3 linked regions of the Homo sapiens genome follow. The protein of the gene in region 3 interacts with the protein of the main gene of each other region in a pairwise test. Each region holds a gene or a part of one and is shown on either strand. Other genes may lie near its edges.

What was found.
Region 1: the proteins of TTC33 (region 3) and SMYD1 interact in a two-hybrid assay, tested with the Homo sapiens proteins (one large-scale study listed by BioGRID and IntAct).
Region 2: the proteins of TTC33 (region 3) and PSMB1 interact in binary tests that used the Homo sapiens proteins (3 or more experiments, as listed by UniProt).

What each region holds. Positions count from the first base shown.
Region 1 is NC_000002.12:88,088,325-88,091,824, forward strand, and holds part of SMYD1 (histone-lysine N-methyltransferase SMYD1), read left to right. Parts: intron 1-2,687; coding exon 2,688-2,818; intron 2,819-3,500. UniProt on the Homo sapiens protein: Methylates histone H3 at 'Lys-4' (H3K4me), seems able to perform both mono-, di-, and trimethylation. Acts as a transcriptional repressor. Essential for cardiomyocyte differentiation and cardiac morphogenesis.
Region 2 is NC_000006.12:170,546,808-170,550,307, forward strand, and holds part of PSMB1 (proteasome subunit beta type-1), read right to left. Parts: intron 2,307-3,500; coding exon 2,199-2,306; intron 1-2,198. UniProt on the Homo sapiens protein: Non-catalytic component of the 20S core proteasome complex involved in the proteolytic degradation of most intracellular proteins. This complex plays numerous essential roles within the cell by associating with different regulatory particles.
Region 3 is NC_000005.10:40,752,444-40,758,263, forward strand, and holds the start of TTC33 (tetratricopeptide repeat protein 33), read right to left. Parts: upstream 3,519-5,820; 5' UTR 3,381-3,518; exon of another isoform or gene 3,251-3,380; intron 1-3,250.

The DNA of each region.
Region 1 (3,500 bases), on a different chromosome or scaffold from region 3:
CAGGCCTCCAAATGACCCAACTAATAAAATCCGGAGATTCTAGAGTATGATTCCTTATCAAGGAGGGGCCATGGTGACAGCTGGGATCGTCCAACTAAGAAGTTTCCAGAAACTGTCAGGCCAGAGTTGGGAGGGGAGGCCAAGAGGACTGAAGGAGGACAGGAGTTTGAAGTGAAGACCCCTCATCCTGGACTCTGTCTTCTGGCCTTGTTTACTGTGAGGCCATTCCTGCTGTATCTGAATTGGCATCCCACATACAAATTTTACTTATTTATCCATCTCTGGATGGTAGATTTGGATGGTAATTTATCCTCTTACTTATCTGCACTTTTTACATTTTTTTCCTCTCCACGTTGAAAATAAAGACCCCCAATCACTATCCCTTCCTGCCCACCAGTCACTTTGGAAACCTTTTTCCAGGTCTGCCAGGCAGGATTGATGTGAAGCCTGGAGCAGTGGGGGATGTGAGCCAGAGAGAGGGGAGTCAGGGTTTTGGGGTGGGAGCAACCAAGCCAGACGAGGCCATAAGAGTCCGGGAAGTGGGGGCGAGAACCCGGTGGATGAGGAGGCTCAGGTCCTGGCTGTGGGGATGGATGTGTTCCATCTGGTAGGCCAGGACCTTTATGTGGTGAAGGTGAGCAGGCTGAGGACGGAGGAGGACAAACATCACACTGACATCTCTCCAGTCTTCACCATATTGGGGGGCAAAGGGAGAGAGATTGATTGAGTCTAAGGATTTGGCTCACGCAATGGTGGAGGCTTGGTAAGTCCAAAATCTGCAAGGTAGGCCATCAGGCTGGAGATCAGGGAAGTGTTGCAGTTCAAGTCCGGAGGCATTCTGCTGGCAGAACTCCTTGCTCAGGGGAGATCAGTCTTTATTCTATTCAGGTCTTCAACTGATTAAATGAGGCCCACCCACATTCTAGCAGGCACTCTGCTTTACTCAAACTCCACCAATTTAAATGTGAATCTCATCCAAAAACACCTTCACAGAAGCATACATTATAGTATTTGACCAAATATCTGGGCACCATTGACCAGCCATGTGGGCACACAAAATTAACCACCACAGCTTCCCATGTATTATTTTACACAATCTTTACAACACAAGGTAAGGTCCATGCTTTCAGTATTTCTATTTTATAGAACAGAAAACCTAGGCCCAGAGGGGTTACATGACCTCCAAAAGCCACATGGTCAGCTTGTGCCCAGGGAAAGTCTAGAAGCAGTCTGTATTTTCAGGAGCCAGAGCTTCTACCTGTTTTTTTTTTTTTTTTTTTTTTTTGAGATGAGGGTCTTACTCTGTCACTCAGGCTGGAGTGCAGTGGTGCAATCATGGTTCATTGCAAACTCCATCTTCCAGGCTCAAGTGATCCTCCCGCCTCCCAAGTAGCTGGGACCACAGATGCATACCACTATGCCTGGTTAATTTTTGCTTTTTTTTTTTTATAGAAGCAGGGTTTCACCATATTGCCCAGGCTGATCTCAAACTCCTGAGCTCAAGTGATCTGCCCATCTCTGCCTTCCAAAGTGCTGGGATTACAGGCGTAAGCCACCACGCCTGGCCTAAGCTTTTACTTTTACCTGTTATGTTCTATAGCCTTGGGGTGAATTGGTGTGTTGAGTAATCTTCGGCATCCCTGATAGGTCTGGGGACTAGGGCTAGAGGTCATATAATTACCAAAGGTTAGAGCTGAAAAGATCCTTGGAGCTTATCTAGTCCAATTTATTCAACCTATAGATGGGAAAACCAGGGCTCAGAGAAGAAAGAAGTTTGCTCCAAGTAGTACAGCTTGTTAGTGGTACTCAGAGGCTTAACATCATGAACTTACTAAATGTCTGATGAGAATAAATGGAGAAAGTGACACTCCTCCATATCTATGACAAATATCCATGTGAGGGCATAAATGTCTACTGAGTTTCTGTTATGTACAGCATGTATTCATAGATGTATTTATAGATGAAGTGGAAATCTGCATGCAGTTACTAATGTATTCTACGTTATATTTATTCTTATGTATTTTTCCTACTGTGAGAGCAGATATTTGGTGTCTGTTTCTGTAAAGAAAAATTTATTTTTAAGGAAAAGAAAATCACTTGGATGCCACATCAGTAGTAACCAACTTGATTTGCCTTGAATCTCAGAGATAAGTGTTAAATATGGCACTCATCAGATTTAACAACTGTGAGCAGGGAATATAAAACTATGCACCAGATACAAAATAATCAAAAGAGATGTCAATTTTTTTTTATGAACAGCTACAGGAGTTTAAACTGAGTAGGCAGAGGAAACAGGGGAAGGAAAAGCTCACACACACACACACGCCCACGCGCACACAAAGCAGGGTACAGAGAGAAAAACCAAGACAGAGACTGAGGAATACTCATGTAAGACCCAGATACAGAAAAAGGAAAATATTTCCACCTTTGACTCTTTTAGAATAGAGCCACAAAAAACTTTCAAGGTAGGGCTGCATTTTTGCAGGTATGGGACTGTTCCATGGCCCTAATCTTGTGTGTCATCTGGAGTCACGCAGAGAACAGGAGACTAATTGTTCTGTGTCCAGACTCCCTAAGCATCTCCAGGGTGAGACTGGGTCTTCTGTTTTTTAAAACTCCTTTCAACAGCTAGGATGTTGTTCTGTCCATGTCTGTCGACTGACTCTTTCATCTTTTCCCCTGGGTAGATTAACTGCAACGGTTTTACTCTCAGTGATCAGAGAGGCCTGCAGGCCGTGGGCGTAGGCATCTTCCCCAACCTGGGCCTGGTGAACCATGACTGTTGGCCCAACTGTACTGTCATATTTAACAATGGCAAGTGAGTATGTCTTTATGTGGGGGTGTGTGTGAAGGGGATGGGGAGACCTATGGTGTTTTCTCCACTTGACTTAAGCCAAAGTCAACCTGCTAAACCTGAACTAGCATAAATTTTAAATGTATAGCACATAGAAATCTCATTCCAGAATAATTGTGAATGAGAGAAAGGCATCATGGAGGATATCAAAGAATTCAACCTGGGTCATTTCTGAATGTGTATGTTTCTTGGGGCTGCCTGGACAGGTTAGATAAACCTTTAACTACTATTTTAAAACTTGAAGCCTAGGATTATCTGTCTAGAGGTCATTTAGTCAAGGTCTCAGCAGGAATCAGGAGGCACACTCAAAAGGTTTTACCCAAATAGAATTGAATGAAGGGACAATTTACAGAAGTGTGGACAGGGTTTAAGATACTAACAAGGGGCAGGGACTGGTGGCTCATGCCTGTAATCCCAGCTCTTTGGGAGCCCGAGGAGGGGGCGGATCACTTGAGGTCAGGAGTTTGAGATCAGCGTGGACAACACAGTGATACCCCCGTATCTATAAAAAATAAATAAATACATAAATAAATACATTAGCCGGGCATGGTGGTGTGTGCCTGCAGTCCCAGCTACTCATGAGGATGAGGCAGGAGGATCACTTGACCTCAGGAGGTTGAGGCTGCAGTGAACTATAATCATGCCA
Region 2 (3,500 bases), on a different chromosome or scaffold from region 3:
AAAAATTTCATAAATTTGACTACATAAAATTCTACAGGGAAATTTAAGAATAGCTTTTTAAAACCCTAAGAAAATATATTAGTAGCATCTACCCCCAAAGTCTAATTTTAATTCTATAAAAATTCTTACAAATAAGGAAAGCAATAACATAAAGGAAAGATGGGTAACTTCTATGAACAGACAAGTCACAGAAAAAAGAGACATTAAGTCACCATAAACATAAGAGCCTCTATGTTACTCAGAAATCCAAATCTCAAAAAGAGACTATTTCAACCAATTATACTGGCTAAAAATGCCTAACTAACTAAATGCTGGTGAGGTTGTGGAAACAGTATAAACTGATTAACCTGTTAGATGGGCAATTTGGTGGTATTTATTAAAAATTTAAATACACACCACTCTCACCAATTCTATTGCTAGAAATCCATCTTGTTAATATACTTATCCAAGTATGCAAAGGGATGCTCTAGACTCACCAGTGAGTACTCATTTAAATAGCACCCCAAAACAAAACAAAACCTAAATGTCCATCTGTATGGAGAGGATTAAAATTTGGTATAGACATACAAATTCAACCGTGTATTTCAAAAATTAATTCCTAGATCTTGATATGAATCTATAAAGAAACCTAAACAATATTTTGCAGAGGCCACACAATTCCTCTTGGAAACTTACGAATGACTCGCACAAACCATACCTGTCCTACTAGGAGAGCAGCTGACACCTCTAGGGTCATCACTAACATCACCTGATCTATGCCTACCATCAACCTCACTGCACTAAGGTGAAGACGTCCAATCCCCTATAAGGCTTTACTGCCTTTACTGACAAGATTGGTTGACAATACCAACAGGGAAAGACAGAAATCTTAGAACTTCAAGATGCTTTTCCCAAATATCCAGGTGCATCAAAGGAATGGGAGTTTTCATGCAAAGAATACAGTCTGAAACAGGTTTGGAAGAGGCAAGCTTAGTTCTAGGTCAGACCCACAGGACGTGGGATGAGGGATATATACAGGCATTCGTTAATGCTGCATTGTTCTTATTCTCTATCTCTATATCTGACGTGTTTCACAAAAAAAAAAAAAAAAAGTGCTCACTTCACCAGCAAACGTAACTAAAGCAATATTTAAAAGATGAGTAAAAGCTAGTACAAGGATGGTATCCATAAAGTTGTTTTAAAATCTTATTTCTAATATTTACTACTTTCAAGTTGTACAAGTGTCGTCCTTGAGGAGAAAAAAAGGTAACACAAGAGCACCATAAACAGAAAGCAGAAAGGGGGTATCAAAAGATGCAAGTGGAGAGAAACAGAACTGGGAAGACGAAAACAAACTTCATTGCTTTTTAAGATGTGGGCCATCCCTAGGAGCAGGAAAGACAACGTATCTTTTCTTCTGTACCTACTTCCTACAATACAAGGAGGGTCCATCCAAAGGACCTAAACCTCGTAAGTCCCATTCCTATTACAATTCAAGTTTAATTAACCCAGGAATTCATGACCATTTATAAGCATTTCCAAAACTGGTAAATACAGACCACTGCCAATCTGCAGTATGTATTCAGTATTTATGCAGGCTTTTTGTTTTTTTAAGTTTTGGCTTTATTTTCATGTTTTAGGAAAAACATAGCTAGCCTATTAAAACTGAGCTGTGGACATAATTGCTTAGGATATTTCTAAAACGAATGTTTCAGGTAAAAAAAAAAAGTGTGGGGAGGCAGATTTAAAAAAAATATCATTTAATGGATTAATGGTGCTGTGGTTTGAATATTCCCTTCAAAACTCATGTTGAAATTTAATTGCCATTGTGATGGTACTGGGAGTTGGGACCAGGTGTTTAGGTCCTAGGGCTCAGCTTTCATGAATGGACATTATCACAGCAGTGGGTTCGCTTGCTCTTCTTTCTTTCTCTGGCCTTCCACCATGTTAAGACACAGCAGGAAATTTTTCATGGTAAAATGCTGGGGTGAACACATTTAGGTTACCGAAAGCACTTTTGGTACCCTGAATACAGCAAATATTATTAAGACTGCACATTAAATTATTAGGAAACATTAACTTAGAAAATGGTTTTCTAATAAAAATGCTCCCAACAGCAACTTAAAAACTCATGAAACAAATCATTTAGAAGTAGAAACTCTCACAACATCAAATCATTACAAAGGCATTGTGAAATGTCTTTAGAAATATTTACTTACAATTTGTAACATTTGGGGCTATCCCGCGTATGAATTGAAAACCCTTCACTCAATCGAGTATCAGAAGCAACAATTGCAAAATCTTCTCCAGCAATTGCCAGTATAGTACTGAGGAAAAAAGAAAAAAATTAATTCTCCAGGGTGGTAATCCTATCCCTACAAATAGAAGAATGCTCCATAGTACATAATGGGATAAAATACTCTAGATGTCAACAAAAACATGATTCAAATGGGAAGAGGAAAGATGAGCGGGAAGAGAATGAACGCCTGGCTACGAGTTGTCTGGGAAAAAAAAATTATTAATAAGCCTAAATCAGGGCAAAGTCTCCTTGGCAGGAGTTAACAGAAAAGCCAATGAATTATCATCACCAACACATTAAATACTTACTCGCGCAAGGTACTACTAATACAGAACAACTAAATACCACATCTGTGCCCTTGAGGATCAGGTATAGACAGTGGTACTACAACGCAAGCTCTATGAGTTTAGAGAAGATGAGATTTTTTTTTCTTGCTTCATTTCTTTATATCCAAGTCCTTATATAACGCCTATATAATGCTTATTTCTTTATACCCAATCCCTTATATAATGACAAATAGATGGACAAACAGTAAATTTTTCCCTCTGTGGCTGTACAATTTGACAGCTTATCAAAGAGACTTACAGTAGAATTCCAAAAGCAGACCGCCTGGGTTCTAATTCTGGCTTTCCCGTTTCGCAGATATGAGACTGTGGGTAAGTTACTTCTCAAAGCGTCAATTTCATCATATATACAACAGAGATCACTGCAGTTGCTACCTCATTAGGGTGTTCAAAGGATCAAATATGTAAGCCCTTATAGCAGTCCCTGACATGTAACTGGTCCTCTAGTAAGTGTTAGCTATAAGTGCTATGGCACTGGAGTATGACTAAGCACCTGGGCTCTGGAATTACATGAGACAGAGACCCACTCTTGCTACTTACTAGGTATGTGATCTTGGACAAATCCTCCAAATGCAAGTTGATGATAACAGTACCTGTGTCACAAGGTGTGTATATATATTTGGGTGTGTATATTTTAATGTACAAGGCTTGACTGATAACTATAACCACTGCTTCAATGCAATAGTGGAAATTAAAGGCATGGTGCCTCACAGACGTAAGCACTCAGGAAACTTAAGCCACTATTTTTACTGAGGAGGGATTTGTGCTAAAGCTCTCAAGAAGAAAAGGATGGCATTCCAGGTAATATAAACAGCAAGCAATGGCAAACAGGTAATTATTCAAATAGTACATACATTCAAGCAACTCATTCAGGCAGC
Region 3 (5,820 bases):
TTAAAATGAGAGATGTGTAACTCTTCCTTTCACTTGGACACTTAGAGGGCATTGTAGGATTAACTGGCCTAATTTCAATATTGCTGTGTCTCAGGAAATAGGGAGACCCAAGGAGAAGAAGAGAGATGGGAATAGCCAGTTGGTGGTACAGCATTCAAAACACACATTTATTGATTAAGTTCACCATCTCATATGGGCATGGTTCATGGCAACCCAAAATGATTACAATTGTTAACACCAAAGATCATCGATTACAGATCACCATAACAGATATAGTAATAATTAAAACATCTGAAATATTTCAAGAATTACCAAAATGTAGCACAGAGACACTAAGTGCACACATGCTATTGGACAAATAGCACGAAAAGACTTGCTGGACACAGGGTTACTGAGCACTTGCAATGTGCAAAAACGCAGTATCTATGAAGTGTGATAAAGTGAAGCACAATAAAATGATCCCTGTAATCACTAGAAGGAAGGTGAGAAAAAAAGTGAGGGTGGCTATGAGGTCATTCACATGGAAAGACCTACCGTAATGGCAGAATTTGGAGGGGTAAGAAAATTGTGAGTCGTATGTCTGAGTTCTTAATGAATATGAGAGAGTGCCAATAAATCACAGCAATCAAGAAATATACAGGCTGGGCGCGGTGGCTCACACCTGTAATCCCAGCACTTTGGGAGGCAGAGGCAGGCGGATCACCTGAGGTCAGGAGTTCAAGACAAGCCTGGCCAACATGGTGAAACCCCGTCTCTACAAAAATACAAAAAGTACCTGGGCATGGTGGCACATGCCTGTAATCCCAGCTACTTGGGAGGCTAAGGCAGGAGAATCGCTTGAACTTAGGAGGTAGAAGTTGCAGTGAGCCGAGATTGCACCATTGCACTCCAGCCTGAGCGACACGAGCAAAACTCCATCTCAAAAAAAAAAAGAAAGAAAGAAAGAAAGAAAGAAATATACAGGCTGATAATATAAGTGAACCACAAACTTTCCACAGGAACTGAGATTTTTTTTAAAACCTGGAGGACTAATGGATTATAAACTGTGCTGGGGAATAAGGACAATGCAAACTCTCTCCCCAGGCCGATCATATTATAGGAGAATGAGTTTCCCATGTTTGAAGATGACTATGAGTATTGTAGGGGAAGATGGCTGAAAACAGAAGTGTGGATACTATGGAACAGAAGTTAAAAGGCACACAGTGAGGACAACCTGAGAAAATACAGATCATTAGGAAAGACTCACAAGATATCAGTGTAAGACAAGATAAAAAGAAGTCTTGTATTTATGATTATCCCTAATGGTAACAAGAATGATGACCACGTTTTCCGGTTTCAAGATTCCAAATGAAACTTTCTTTATTCATAAGGTGAGGCACCAGGCACTGTGGGAACCCTACTCATACTAAAGGACACCTAGTGTGTTTACTGGAGGTAAACTACAATAAAAATCATTGATCAAAAGAAAAAAAAGTAAAAAAAAAAACCGTTGATCAGATCTGTAGATTACATGAGGGGCTGTGATAGGGTGGGAAGGAAAGGAAAAAGTGAGAAACAGACCCACACATCTTTTAAAATTAATAGGTCATTCAGATTCCAATTACCCTCCCCATCTTCCAACCCAAACCACTGTTATAAATGCTGGGGACAAGTATAAGTTATGGCCCAAGGTGGTGGCTCTCAACCATATGTGAAAAAACCACGCCACTATTGCCTCAGGTGTTTGAGCCATTCTCCTCCACAGATCCCTTGAGACCTAGAGATCAGGGGCTGCAGAGGTCAGGACAGACTGAGGTTATGAGGGTGTGGGAGGCCTGATGCCACTAGCAATCGACAAGTTTAACCTGAAAGAGGGAGACAAAAATACAGTCCTCTCAGACAAAAAAAGGAGTTAATATTGAGTGAAACATACAGGCAAGTTCAGGGATGGAGGGAAAGGAAAATGAGGAATTTCATGCCCCAAGCTTCACATTTCTCCAGCAAACAGCGGCTAGTCATCTGCTCAAAGTAAAAGGAAAATAACAGATCTGAGTTCTTGAGAAAAAGGGAAAAGACTAAAATAGTCACTGTGGAGATAAGGAAAAGCAACAAAGGAAAAATAGAGATACCAAACAGTAGTATCAAGGGCCCACTACTGTGTAAAAGCATGAATCTGTTATCAAGGCCATTAGCAAAGTTTTATATTTTCTTCAAAAGTGTCTGGAAACCACAGAGTACAGTCAATTTCATACACGATATGTGCTACAAGAGAGTAAACAAAGGATGCCATGACATCAGAGAAGAGACACTTGAGGCTTTCTGGAGGACTTAAGCTTTGAAGAAAACTTAGCCAGGCTTAAAAAGGTATGTGAATCCTAGAGCATGCAAAGCACTTTCTGCATTAGAAAATTTAACATTCCCAGTTGTTTCAGATATCTTAAGCCGAACGAGTTTATTGTTCCTCTATGACTATCTGAACATGAAATTAAAACTTCTTATGAAGGAGGCTTTCCTGAGTCTAGTTAGAAGCACGAGGCTTCAACATCCTAGACTTAACATTTTTTTACCAGAGTAAGAAACCATGAGAGTAAACCACAATCCACACCGGTTTCATGTTAAACTCATGAAACCAGACAAATTCAACCTTTTATATAGGATTATATTTCAGGAATGGCATAACGATTCTAAACAACGACGCTGTATTCTAAATTCCTGTACTGTTACAAAGATCCCTATAGTAGGCGCTCAACAACTGGCGACGGCTTCACATTTACCCAGCCGCCAGAGAGGGCTTGTCTTGAGTGTGTCTGAGGATGCAGCACCCAAAGGGAAAAACCACTACATGAACAAGATCAGGAAATCACAACAGCATCCTTCTGGGTAAAAGGAGGTATTCAGAGGTGAGGAATCCAAGAAACGATTTACCCAAAAACGCCACCGCAAGAGAAAAACCAGTATTAGTGACTTTCCCTTCATCGGTCAACAATAATAAAAACGCTCAGAAAGGCTGCCCCGGACGTCACCTGCGCGTTCACGGACCGCCCCGGGCCGCAGACACCTCTCCAGCGGGGAGCGGCCGGCTCGTCCCGCCCGTCCCACCGCTCAGGGAAGGTTGCGGCCGCGCAGCTCCGCGAAGGTGCCACGGCGGGCCCGACCCTCAGACTCGCTTGTCCCTGGAGACCAACCCTAGCGACCAGGCTCTGCCGGATCCCGTCGGGTTTCAACTCCTATTCCGAAGGTCCTTTCTCCCCTAATCACAACACCCACTCGCCTCTTTTTCCTCCTCTTCCTCAGCTTCCACCGCCGACCGGGCAGCCCCAGTTACCCGATAACGGCTCCCAAGGCCCCGTGTTTACATTCTTTCCCACTGGAAGCAGAAATTATCACGCCCAAATTCCTACCTGCCTTCCCTGGATTCCTGGTTTCCTAAGAAACGGGTTTGGCCCACCCCTGGGCGTTCGAACAGTCCACAGAAGCGGGCAAAGGAAAGACGACTCAGTCTTTCCCCTCCGCCAATCTCTTCTCCGGGACCACAAATCCCAGAAGTCACCGCGGCCGCCCCCACTGCATGACCTTCTGGGATTTGTAGTAGTCAGGGCCACGCGGCTGGGCGCGCCCTCTAGCAGCAGCCCTGAGTGACCGCAGCGCACGAGCGCGGGAAAATGAGGCTGCGCGGGCTGAAGAGCGCACCGAGAGGAGCCGCCCCCGCGGTACCGCGCAGCCTCGCGTCCCGTCAGTGGGGAACAAGGTGAGGGGAAAACTTATTTTACGGGATTCAAAGGATTAGGATATGCTCCTTCCCCGAAGGGGTTTATAGCCTAGCTGATGAGGTCGGCCAGACGCAGAGAACAGAGAGGCAAAATTCGGTTATAAAGGGCTCGAGGCGGCCGGGCGGGGAGGCTAGTCAGGGAGGCTCGAGGCTGAACTGCAGGCTTCACGTTAAAGTTACAAGTGAGTTGGACCCAGAAGGCAGAATTACAGCCAGAACGTAGCTGTGCATCATGTCTTGAAAATAAACGAGCACATGTAATAAAGGTAATCAAGATTGTTAATTTCTCCAACTCTCCTGCCCAAAAGACTCATTTTTGGAAGTCATACTTTCTCAGCCTCAGCACCATTAACATTTCAAACTGGATAATGCTTTGTTGGGGGACGGGGTGTTCTGTGCATTGTAGGGTGCTTAGCAGCATCTCTGGTCTCTGTCCACGGGATGTCACCACCAGTCGATTGTGACAGCCAATGGTTTCCCCAGTGAAATTTCCCCTGGAAGAAAAACTATCCCTCCCACCCTGCCCCGTTGAGAACCACTGATGTCGACCAACGATTGTCCTGAGGGTCAATGACACCCTTTCAAAGCCAAAATTATTTTCATACTAATATGAAGACGTGATTTGCCCTTTGCACAATGCTGACATTTGCACTGATGGTGGAAAAGCAATGGTAGGTCAAGGTGCTGGCCCCTCCACAGGAATTACAGTAATGACACCAAACCGTACTGGAGCTCTTCACCACCACACGCTCACAGTAAGAAAAATGGGCCGGGCGCGGTGGTTCACGCCTGTAATCTTAGCACTTTGGGAGGTCAGGAGTTCGAGACCAGCCTGGCCAACATGGCGAAACCCCATCTCTACCAAAAATACAAAAATTAGCCAGGCCTGGCGGCACGCACCTGAATCCCAACTACTCGGGAGGCTGGGGTGGGAGGATCCCTTGAGCCTGGGAGGTCGAGGCTGCAGTGAGCCGAGGTCATGCCACTGCATTCCAGCCTGGATGACAGAGCAAGGCACGGTCTCAAAAAAAAAAAAAAAAATGGAAAAATGAACGCTGTCACCAGAGAATATCCCTGATGAAGTTGTAAAAGTTACTTTATTATAACCACTCCGACACTTAATATTCTTTGTAAAAACTTGGAAGTCCTCACAAAGTACTTCTGCTGCATATTGAAGTATGACGTATCAAAGAAGAGCTACTGTGAGATGGCATTATAAACTGAAGTAAATACTTTTTTTTCCTGGAACACAAATTTTACTAAGATGAGTGACAAACCGGTTATTCGGACTTGGGTATTTGACAAACCTTTCTTGAAAATGAACAAAGGGAATCTGTAACTTCAAGAAAAACAAGGAAAGGGAAAGGGGAAGGGGAAAGGAAAGGAAAAAAGAGAAATAGGGAGGGAGGGAGGAAAGAAAAAAAAATTGAGTTTGTTGCCAATGATAAAATTCAAGATTTTAGGCAAAAAAAAAATATGATTTTGGAAAAATGGTATTCACCATAATGATCTTGGCAGCTTCCCAGTATCTCCAGAATTTTCTGATATAAGTGATTATCAGTTGTGACTTTTATTTACATTGTTTGCTTAAATACATCAATATTTGTGCAGGCTGCATAAGTGAACCAGTAGTATTTGAAAACGATCAATGCATGACTGCGGTAGCCAGCCTCCAAGATGGCATTCACTCCTGGCATTCACATCCTTATGCACTGCCTTCCTATATTGTACCACGGTTGGTCTGTGTTACCTACAGAAGAGGGCAGAAGTGACCGTTTATCACTTCCGATATTAATTATGAAAGACACTAAGATGGTGGCAATGTTTCTTAATCTGCCTAGAGGTTTACATGGTCATGTTTCCTGTGTACCTGAAATACTGAAAACTCATTAAGCCAAATACTCATTTGTGCACTTTTCTGTATATATGTCTATGAAAGTCTTAAATAAGAAAACATGTACCTCCCTAACAAGACATGCAGAGGGAAGATTTATCTTATGGTCACATTCATAGTGTCATTAGTTCATAGTAGCCAATAAGAAGGAATAGAGGTTGCAGAGTGAGTAAATGGT